Linked DNA regions of Homo sapiens. The protein of the gene in region 2 interacts with the protein of the main gene of each other region in a biochemical or structural test. Each region holds a gene or a part of one and is shown on either strand. Other genes may lie near its edges.

What was found.
Region 1: the proteins of CAT (region 2) and PTPN11 form a complex in vitro, tested with the Homo sapiens proteins (one study listed by IntAct).
Region 3: the proteins of CAT (region 2) and EHHADH form a complex in vitro, tested with the Homo sapiens proteins (one study listed by BioGRID).

Annotation. Positions count from the first base shown.
Region 1 is NC_000012.12:112,453,447-112,457,103, reverse strand, and holds part of PTPN11 (tyrosine-protein phosphatase non-receptor type 11), read right to left. Parts: intron 2,541-3,657; coding exon 2,424-2,540; intron 1,155-2,423; coding exon 1,041-1,154; intron 1-1,040. UniProt on the Homo sapiens protein: Acts downstream of various receptor and cytoplasmic protein tyrosine kinases to participate in the signal transduction from the cell surface to the nucleus. Positively regulates MAPK signal transduction pathway. Dephosphorylates GAB1, ARHGAP35 and EGFR.
Region 2 is NC_000011.10:34,469,902-34,472,685, reverse strand, and holds the end of CAT (catalase), read right to left. Parts: intron 1,729-2,784; coding exon 1,645-1,728; intron 1,319-1,644; coding exon 1,253-1,318; 3' UTR 626-1,252; downstream 1-625. UniProt on the Homo sapiens protein: Catalyzes the degradation of hydrogen peroxide (H(2)O(2)) generated by peroxisomal oxidases to water and oxygen, thereby protecting cells from the toxic effects of hydrogen peroxide.
Region 3 is NC_000003.12:185,202,035-185,205,691, reverse strand, and holds part of EHHADH (peroxisomal bifunctional enzyme), read left to right. Parts: intron 1-934; coding exon 935-1,276; intron 1,277-3,657. UniProt on the Homo sapiens protein: Peroxisomal trifunctional enzyme possessing 2-enoyl-CoA hydratase, 3-hydroxyacyl-CoA dehydrogenase, and delta 3, delta 2-enoyl-CoA isomerase activities. Catalyzes two of the four reactions of the long chain fatty acids peroxisomal beta-oxidation pathway.

The DNA.
Region 1 (3,657 bases), on a different chromosome or scaffold from region 2:
ATTAAAGGGGAGGGAGAGCATTAGGACAAACACCTAATGCATGCAGGACTTAAAACCTAAATGATGGGTTAATGTGTGCAGCAAACCATGATGGCACATGTATACCTATGTACAAACCTGCACGTTCTGCACATATATCCCAGAACTTAAAGTATAATCAACAAAAATAATTTAAAAAAAAAAGAAATCAGTTCACTTAACTTACCAGAGTTATCAATTTGAACTCTGAAATTAAAGCCACCACATTTGGCACGTCAAAGCTGGAGGATCACTTGAGCCCAAGAGTTCAAGACCAGCCTGGGCAACACTGCAAAACCCCATCTCTACAAAAAAATACAAAAATTAGATGGGCATGGTATCGTGTGCCTGTAGTCCCAGCTACTCGGGAAGCTTAAGTAGGAGGATCACTTGAGCCCAAGAGTTCAAGACCAGCCTGGGCAACACTGCAAAACCTCATCTCTACCAAAAATACAAAAATTAGCCAGGCATAGGGGCATGTGCCTGTAGTCCCAGCTACTCAGTAGGCTGAGATGGGAAGATCACTTGAGCCCAGGGAGGACGGGGCTGCAGTAAACCGAGATCACGCCACTACACTCCAGCTTCGGCGACAGAGCGAGACCCTGTCTCAAAAAAAAAAAAAAAAAAGCCACCACAAGGTGTTTCTCTTTTACTCATACTCATTTGCTGCACTAAGGCTATAGATTGTTTCTAAAGACCCCAGTGCATGCTGGAAATCTTTCGAAGAAATTAGATCCTTTTGTTTCTCTGAGATTTTGCCACCAGTCCAAACCAAAAGAGCCAAATGGAGCGGCTAGCACATCCATTGACTACTCACTGCCAACTCCCTTCCCTCAGAACACAATGCTCTTCTGTTTCGAAGAAGCCCTCTCAGCAACTTGCTCCGTGTCAATCAATGGCCGAATTAAAAAAGGACGTCAGTTTCAAGTCTCTCAGGTCCAATTCCAAACACAAGAGCAACTTCTCCTCCACTAAAAATAGGATATAACAACTCACGTAAAAACAGTTTTTTAATAACTTACCTCAAATTCTTCCCAAAAGCCTTGTTTGACTTTATCTGTGGTCTCAGCTAATTTGCTTAGTTCTCGAACTCTGCTTTCTATTTCAGCAGCATTTATACGAGTCGTGTTAAGGGGCTGATCGAGTACAGCAGTTGATGTAAAATAAAGAAAATATTACAGAAAACGGTGTTAATGCAAAAAAAAAAAAAAAAACATGTCTATGTTGATATTCATAAAGGCACGGACAGAGGGTTCATAGGACCCTGTAATTCACAATAAAAGTTTTCAAATCGTTTCACCGTGTTTTCTGTTCAGCCAGAAAATGTATCTTTCTTCAGTCTTCACATACACTTTACTCTGCTGATATAAATTCAAGCCTATTTTTCTTTATGAATAGACCACATTATTTAGAGAGATTATATCATTTTCCACTATCATAAAGGTGAAATTTGAAATAGCAACAATGCCAAAGTGAATAAGTGAGGTTACCTAAAGGTAACCAGAAGTGGATCTATAATGAAAACTTGCTTTAAAACTCTGTACAGCCTTAGGCCAGATGCAGTGGCTCATGCCTATAATCCCAGCACTTTGAGAGGCTGAGGCAGGCAGATCACTTGAGGTCAGGAGTTCAAGACCAGCCTGGCTAACATGGTGAAACCCCATCTCTACTAAAAATACAAAAATTAGCTGGGTGTAGTGGCACCACCTATAATCCCAGCTACTCAGGAGGCTGAGGCAGGAGAAGCTCTTGAACCCGGGACGCAGAGGTTGCAGTGAGCCAAGAACACGCCACTGCACTCCAGCCTGGGCGACAGAGCAAAACTCCATCTCAAAAAAAAAAAAAAAAAAAAAGAACCTCTGTAATGCCTTTTACAGATAAATATGGGAATAATATAAATCTGGAATATGTTTCCAAGTACTATAGCGGCAGTCAGTGAGTGGAATCATAATAAGAAAAGATTTAGGGCCGGGCGTGGTAGCTCACGCCTGTAATCCCAAAACTTCGGGAGGCCAAGGCGGGCAGAAAACCTGAGGTCGGGAATTCAAGACCAGCCAGGCCAACATGGTGAAACCCCATCTCTATTAAAAACACAAAAACTAGCCGGGCATGGTGGTGGGCACCTGTAGTCCCAGCTACTCAGGAGGCTGAGGCAGGAGAATCGCTTGAACCCAGGAAGCAGAGGTTGTAGTGAGCCAAGATTGCAACACTGTACTCCAGACTGGGTGACAGAGTAAGACTGTCTCAAAAAAAAAAAAAAAAAAAAAGATTTGATAGTTGAAGCTGCAATGGGTACATGGAGGCTGATGATACTATTCTGTCTACCTCTGTATGTTTGCAAAATTCTCTATTAGGATTTGTTTTAAGTTTTTAAGGAGAAAGCTTGAGCTTTCCAATCTGCTCACCTGCTTGAGTTGTAGTACTGTACCCAATGTTTCCACCATAGGATTCTTCTTATAATGTTCCACAAGATCTGTCAAAGAATCAAACCGTTCTCCTCCACCAACGTCGTATTTCAGTTCCTTTCAAGATAAACACATGACATTTATTATTTGTTACCTTTATGTTACATTAGTGTTTTCAAGCACTCTCATGTTCACTGCAGCATTATTCACAATAGCTAGTATATAGAGACAACTTAAATGTCCATCAAAAGACAGATAATAGGCTGGGTGCAGTGGCTCACGCCAGTAATTCCAGCACTTTGGGAGGCCAAGGCGGGCAGATCATTTGAGGTCAGGAGTTCGAGACCAGCCTGGCCAACATGGTAAAACCCCATATCCACTAAAAATACAAAAATTAGCCAGGCTTGGTGGTGGACACCTGTAATCCCTGCTACTCAGGAGGGTGAGGCACGAGAATCACTTGAGCCCAAGAGGCAGAGGTTGCAGTGAGCCAACTGTGCTTCAGCCTGGGAGACAGAGGGAGACTCTGTCTCAAAAAAAAGATAAATAATAAAAATGTGGTGTGTGTATACAAATATACTAAAAGTGTAAATATACTCAATATACTCAAGTATGATAAGTATAATAATATATTAAATATGCTAATATACTAATACAGTAACTATACTAATATATTAAGTATAATAAAAGCATAGACGAACTTGACTAAGTAAGCAAAGAAAATCTGACTTTGGATCAGGCACAGTAGTTCACATCTGTAATCCTAACACTTTGAGAGGTTGAAGGAGGCAGGCCTCTTGAGCACTAGTTCAAGACCACACTGGGCAATGCGGCAAAACACCATCTCCACAAAAAATACAAACACTAGCTGGGCATGGTGGCACACACCTGTAGTCCCAGCTACTCAAGAGGCTGAGGGAAGATCAACTGAGCCCAGGGAGGTTGCACTCCAGCCTGCGTGACAGAGCAAGACCCAGTCTCAAATGAATAAACAAATGAATATTAAAAAAACAAAAACAAAAAAAAAAAAAAAACAGAAAATCTGACTTTGAATGTAATGGTGTTTGTCCTCTTCCAGCAGAAAAATCACCCAAAGATTTGGGTCACCAGACCCAACGTGGTGAAACCCCATCTGTAGGTGATAGAGCAAGACCCTGTCTCAAATAAATAAATAAATAAATAAATAAATAAAAGACAATCTGACTTTGAATGTAATGGTGTCTGTCTTCTGTCA
Region 2 (2,784 bases):
GATCCTCCCGCCTCAGCCTCCCTAGTAACTGGGACTACAGGCATGCGTTACCATACTCGGCTAATTTTTGTATTTTTTGTACAGACAGGGCTTCGCCATGTTGCCCCGGCTGGTCTCAAACTCCTGAGTTCAAGTGATCCTCCTGCCTTGGCTTCCCAAAGTGCTGGGTTTACAGGCATATGAGCCACCACACCCGGCACAAACTGGTTTTGAATATGAACGGAATAAAGATTTTCAAGGAAAACAAATTTTCATTTAGTATTCAGAACTCATCTTTAAAGTCTTCCATGTGATTTTCAACCATGATAGGCAAATATGGGCTTTAAAAAGAAGGAAGAGGAAAGTGACCAGTGGTTCTGAGCCCTTGTTTTAAAAAGTCAATCACAGGTAAGTGAGCAAATGGACAAGAGATTTAAGTAATTTTCAAAGTTGGGGCATTTGCTATTTTATCAGTGTCTCAGAAGGCTGTCCAAAGGCTATAGATTTAAACAAATAACATGGAGTCCTCGAGATACTGGCATTTCCATTTTTAAGGGTAAACATCTGAAAATGATGATGTTCAAATTAAGAGTCTGGTAGCAGTTTACAGTTACATATGGAGTCGAAAGAAAGAAAATACCATCTCTGTTCTTACGTACAGATTATTTATTGTAAAAATGTAAGCAATTACAAATTGATCTGTTGTGAAATCAGTGCTGAATTAACATTAATGTAACTCCAGTGAAAAAAATGAATTTGATCAATTATTATCAGGAATAAACATTAAGCCATGACGGTGCTCAAGTTATCTTCTGATGACACTGCTGTATTAAATGTACTTTTCCTATGAGAACCTTAGAAAAATAAAAATTTCTGAGTAGATCATCTTTATCTTTTCTTTTTATATATTTATAGCCATATTTTAATATAATAGGCCATGAGGTGATATGTAAACATACATAATTTCAACAAATTTTGTCAAATAAAATCATATTTCTAGCTAGAAACTTGCCTTCTAATCATTTTAAATGAATAATCCAATCATCCGTCAAAACAAATTTTTTTTTTAAATGACTGTTAAATCCTAACCTTCATTTTCCCCTGGGGAAATAGCATTAAAATTGTTACACAATCTGCTATAGAAAGTGGGATTCTCTATTTTGAAGCCACTAGCTTGCATTTGCACATCTAGCACAGGAGAATCTTCATCCAGTGATGAGCGGGTTACACGGATGAACGCTAAGCTTCGCTGCACAGGTGCAGGGCCCCGGCCTCACAGATTTGCCTTCTCCCTTGCCGCCAAGTGAGATCCGGACTGCACAAAGGTGTGAATCGCATTCTGTTTTAAAAGAACAAGATGAGCAGGTTAATCACCTCATGGGCAGCAACGTGATATTTACTCAGTTTTAATATGTATGCAAATGAAAATAATAATTCAGAATTCATTCACTTTAACTGTCTTAAATTGCCCAGCGCTAAAATGAAGAGTATGTGTTTTGCCAGTGAATTCTTTATCTCTCAAATGAATTTCTGCACAGCTGCCTAAGAAATCTAACAGTGGCAGGTAATGGCCCCTGCAGACTGTAATGCTAAGTGGTAACTAAGTCATGCCTACTCCAACCCAGCACACACAGCCTCTGCATGGCCAGGCTGCTCCCAGCTTACCTTAGGCTTCTCAGCATTGTACTTGTCCAGAAGAGCCTGGATGTGGCTCCCGTAGTCAGGGTGGACCTCAGTGAAGTTCTTGACCTAAGGCCAAAGGAAAATAAATGCAAGCATTACTCTAACTCCCTACTATATCACTCCCCAGGGACTGTGGTTTCCCAGTGTTTATTCCATAGGGGAGGAAAGACGTTTCAGCAGGAGGCAGTACTACAGGTGTTTAACAATGCCAGCCTCAGAGTTAAGATGCAGGTCCAGTGAACACTCTGACATATACTGGCTGAGCAACCTCGGATAGGTCACTTAACTTACTGAGCTTATGTCCCTCTGCCGAAATGCGCAAGAAAATGACACCTAATCAGTATAATTTTAAAAATACTATTTGGTCTTTGTCCCCCATTCCTGACACAGATCTAAAACCCTTCGAATGTACTGTCTTTTATATACTACTAAGATGATTCATGGGGGCCTACATAGATTCCTGATGGAGGCTCACACCAGGAAGAACAAGCACGCGATCAGAAGGTTAGAACTTCTAGCCCCACCCCCAAACCTCCAGGGATGGGAGAGGGGCTGGAGATTGTATTCAATCACCCATAGCCAATAATTTCATCAATCATGCCTATGTCATAAAACCTCCAGAAAAACCCACAACTGGCAAGGTCAGGGAGTGTCTGGATTAGTGCACACATCCAGGAGCTAGAAGGGTGGTCCACTCAGGGAGGCACAGAAGCTCCGAGGCCTTCCCCCATGCCCCTCTTCCATTTGTCTATTCCTGAGTTGTATTCTTTATAATAAATTGGTAATCATAAGTAAATCATTTTCCTGAGTTCTATGAGTCTTTCCAGCAAATTATCAAACCTGAGGAAAGGGTTTGATTTGCAGTCAGAATCTGCAGAAGTGTGCATAGCCAGGGTACCTCATTTGTTATCTAAAGTGGGAAATGACCCCTAAATCTTTGGGTTCTGACTCTAGCTCCAGGAGCTACTGTTAGAATTGAATTGAGTTATAGGACACACAGTTACTGTCAAAGAATTACAGAATTGCTTATTGTCGGGGAAAAAAACCCATACAACCTAGGCCAGGCGCAGTGGCTCACGCCCGAAATCCCAGCACTTTGGGAGGCCAAGATGGGTGGATCAC
Region 3 (3,657 bases), on a different chromosome or scaffold from region 2:
TTCCCATTTCTCACTGAGCAGATTGTGAATATTTCCATATGGATTTTCTGTTGTTAATGTTGCTCCGATTCTTTGTTTTAAAATAAAAATTCTGAATGTGAAAAAAAGAGACTCTCCTTTCTTCCATTGAATTGTTTGGACACCTATGTTGAAAATCATTGGCTATAATTGTAAGAGTTTATTTGTGAACTCTCGATTCTCTTCCATTGATATATATACCTATCCTTGCATCAATACCACGCTGTCTCCTTTTCTAGGTATTTTAAAGTTTTTGTTACTATTAGGAACGGAGTTAAGGTTATTTTGAATCTAAAATATTCACTCAATAATAGACACTAGAGTCTCTACTACAGGGGAAGGGAGGGAGGATGGCAAAGGTTGAAAAACCAACTTCTGGGTACTATGCTCACTACTGGGGTGGCAGGATTATTCATATCCCAAGCCTCAGCATCGTGTGATATACCCATGTAACAAACCTGCACATGTATGCCCTCAATCTAAAATAAAAGCTGAAATAATTTTTAAAAATTAATAAATAAAATATTAACTCAGAACCGTTTTCCTTAGACTCATTAATATTTAATATATTAATATTAATTACAGATTAAATATTAATCTATTGATTAATTTAATTAATTAATCATTAATCTATTATAAAATTGTCTTGGTCTTGGATTAAAAAGAAAATACAACTTTTATGCCTAAACTAGGTAACCTAAAATTGCTTTGAGTCTACTAAATTCTATCTTGTAGGACTGTGTTGCAAAGATATCAGAGATGTTAGTGTACATATGTTTAGTGTACATTAAATGTCTTAATGAATAGCTTTTAGTTTGTGCTTTGAATTTGAACAGGTTATTGTTATTACTATATATTCACATTCCCTTTGTACAAGTAACATTTCCAAAGCTCTGATCCTTCTTATTCCTTTCAGATCAACCTCTAGAATCCCGTAGACTCTGCAACAAGCCAATTCAGAGCTTGCCCAACATGGACAGCATTTTTAGTGAGGCCCTCTTGAAGATGCGGAGGCAGCACCCTGGGTGTCTTGCACAGGAGGCTTGTGTCCGTGCAGTCCAGGCTGCTGTGCAGTATCCCTATGAAGTGGGCATCAAGAAGGAGGAGGAGCTGTTTCTATATCTTTTGCAATCAGGGCAGGCTAGAGCCCTGCAATATGCTTTCTTCGCTGAAAGGAAAGCAAATAAGTGGTCAACTCCCTCCGGAGCATCGTGGAAAACAGCATCAGCGCGGCCTGTCTCCTCAGTTGGTGTTGTTGGTAAGACCATGGGGTAATGAATGGAATCCTCCAAATCTGCTCATGTAATGTGCTACCATTTGCTTAGGGCTACCGGATGCTAGGTTTCACGTAAGACACATTACTTGTGTTAGCTAAGCTAATTCTCACACCACCCCATGAGCTCTCTTCTTTAACATGAGAGGCCTAGAGACGCCAGCCTTCTCAATGGTGAGCTAAACACGAGTAGGGTGAAAGTCTGACCCTAGGTCTGACTCCAGACTGGGAATGTTTTATTCTTTTTTTTTTTTTTTTTTTTTTTTTTGAGACAGAGTCTTGTTCTGTCACCCAGGCAGGAGTGGAGTGGCTCAATCTCGGTTCACTGCAACCTCCACCTCCCAGGTTCAAGTGATTCTCTTTCCTCAGCCTCCTGAGTAGCTGTGACTACTGCCACCATGCCCAGATAATTTTTGTATTTTTAGTAGAGACAGGGCTTCGCCATGTTGGTCAGGCTGGTCTCGAACTCCTGGCCTCAAGTGATCCACCTGCCTTAGCGTCCCAAATTTCTGAGATTACAGGTGTGAGCCACCATTCCTGGCCTAGCATTTTTTATTCTATGCTACCTCTTCCCTGTATGAATCTCTCATTCCTGGATTTCCTGATGATGATGATTTGTACCACATTTCAAGGTGTGGCCTGTCACTCTCATAGCTGGGTATTTGCAATCAAGTCTCTGTCTTTCCGTCCCCCGATCCATTCACTTCACCTGTTCAAAACCACTATCCTCAAATCCATCTTAACCCTGAAACCATGGCTTCCTTACTTTTTTTCCCTCTGGAATTTTCCCAAACAAAATATCTTCCTTCCTCAGATGCTAGCTCCCTGATTGGCTTCTCTGGGCCACTTTCCTAAGCTTCACTTGCTCTTAGTCTCGGCTCAAGAACGGTCTTTGGTGGATTTTAAATCCCTTGAGATGGTAAGTGAAGCATTCTTTGCACCAGCTTAGGTACAATCTTCTGGGGAGAGGGTCCATAGTTTACTAAAAGCATCAACTTTCTTTCTTTTCTTTTTTTCTTATATTTAAGTTTTTTTAATCATAATTAAAGACATGCAGGAAAGTTATAATAGTACAAAAAATTCTCATATACTTTTTATCCAGATCCTCCAAATGTTAACGTTTTACTATATTTGTTTTATTTCCCTCTCTCTTTTCTGAACCCTAAGAAAAAGTTACAGACTTATGTGTATTTCCTAAAATTAATATTCTCATACATGACCACAGTATAATTTATTTTAAAAAACAGGGCAATTAATATAAAGAACTATTATTTAGTCTATAGCCCTTATTCTGATTTTTCTTTCTTTTTTCTTTTTTTTTAACCATCTTTACGATTTGTAAGTATACAGTTCAGTAGTAATAAATATATTTATATCCTTTTTTTTCCCTTCATCTCCCATCCCCCCCTCCCCTTCCTGGCCTTTGGCAACCACCAATCTACCCTGTATCATTATGAGATCTACATTTTAAGCTCCCACATATGAGTGAGAACATATGATATTTGCCTTTTTGTGTAAAAGCATCAACTTTCTTAACCCTTGCCCAGCTGTCTAGCACAGTGGTCTCCAACCTTTTGGCACCAGGGACCAGTTTCACGGAATACAATTTTTCACGGATTGGGGGATGATGGTTTTGGGATGAAACTGTTCTACCTCAGATCATCAGGCATTAAATTCTCAGAAGGAGCATGCAACCTAGATCCCTCACATGCGCAGTTCACAATAGGGTTCGCGCTCCTGTGAGAGTCTAATACCACCACTGATCCGACAGGAGGCGGAGGTCAAGGCTGAAATGCTCCCTAGCCTGTTGCTTACCTCCTGCTGTGCTAACAGGTCACGGACTGGTACCGGTCCACAGCCAGAGGTTGGCGACCCCTGCTGTAGCACCAACCCAACTTGGAGGCAAAGATCTCACTCCACATTTTCTCAGTCTGTTTGTTCTCTCAATTCAACTTTGGTATCAAAGAATCTGTCTCTAATATAAATACATTGTGCTCCTTTCAGCTCTGACTCTGTTGAGGTCTACCCTTGATTCGCTTGGGATTTTTTTTTTTTTTTTTTTGATATGGAGTTTCGCTCTGTCACCCAGGCTGGAGTGCAGTGGCGCAATCTCAGCTCACCACAACCTCCGCCTCCCAGGTTCCAGCAATTCTCGTGCTTCAGCCTCCCAAGTAGCTGGGATTACAGGTGCTGCGCCACCAAGCCTGGCTGATTTTTGTATTTTTAGTAGAGACAGGGTTTCACTATGTTGTCCAGGCTGGTCTTGAACCTCTGACCTCAGGTGATCCGCCCACCTTGGCCTCCCAAAGTGCTGGAGTTACAGGCGTGAGCCTTTGTGCCCAGCCTCACTTGTGATTTTTTAAGAA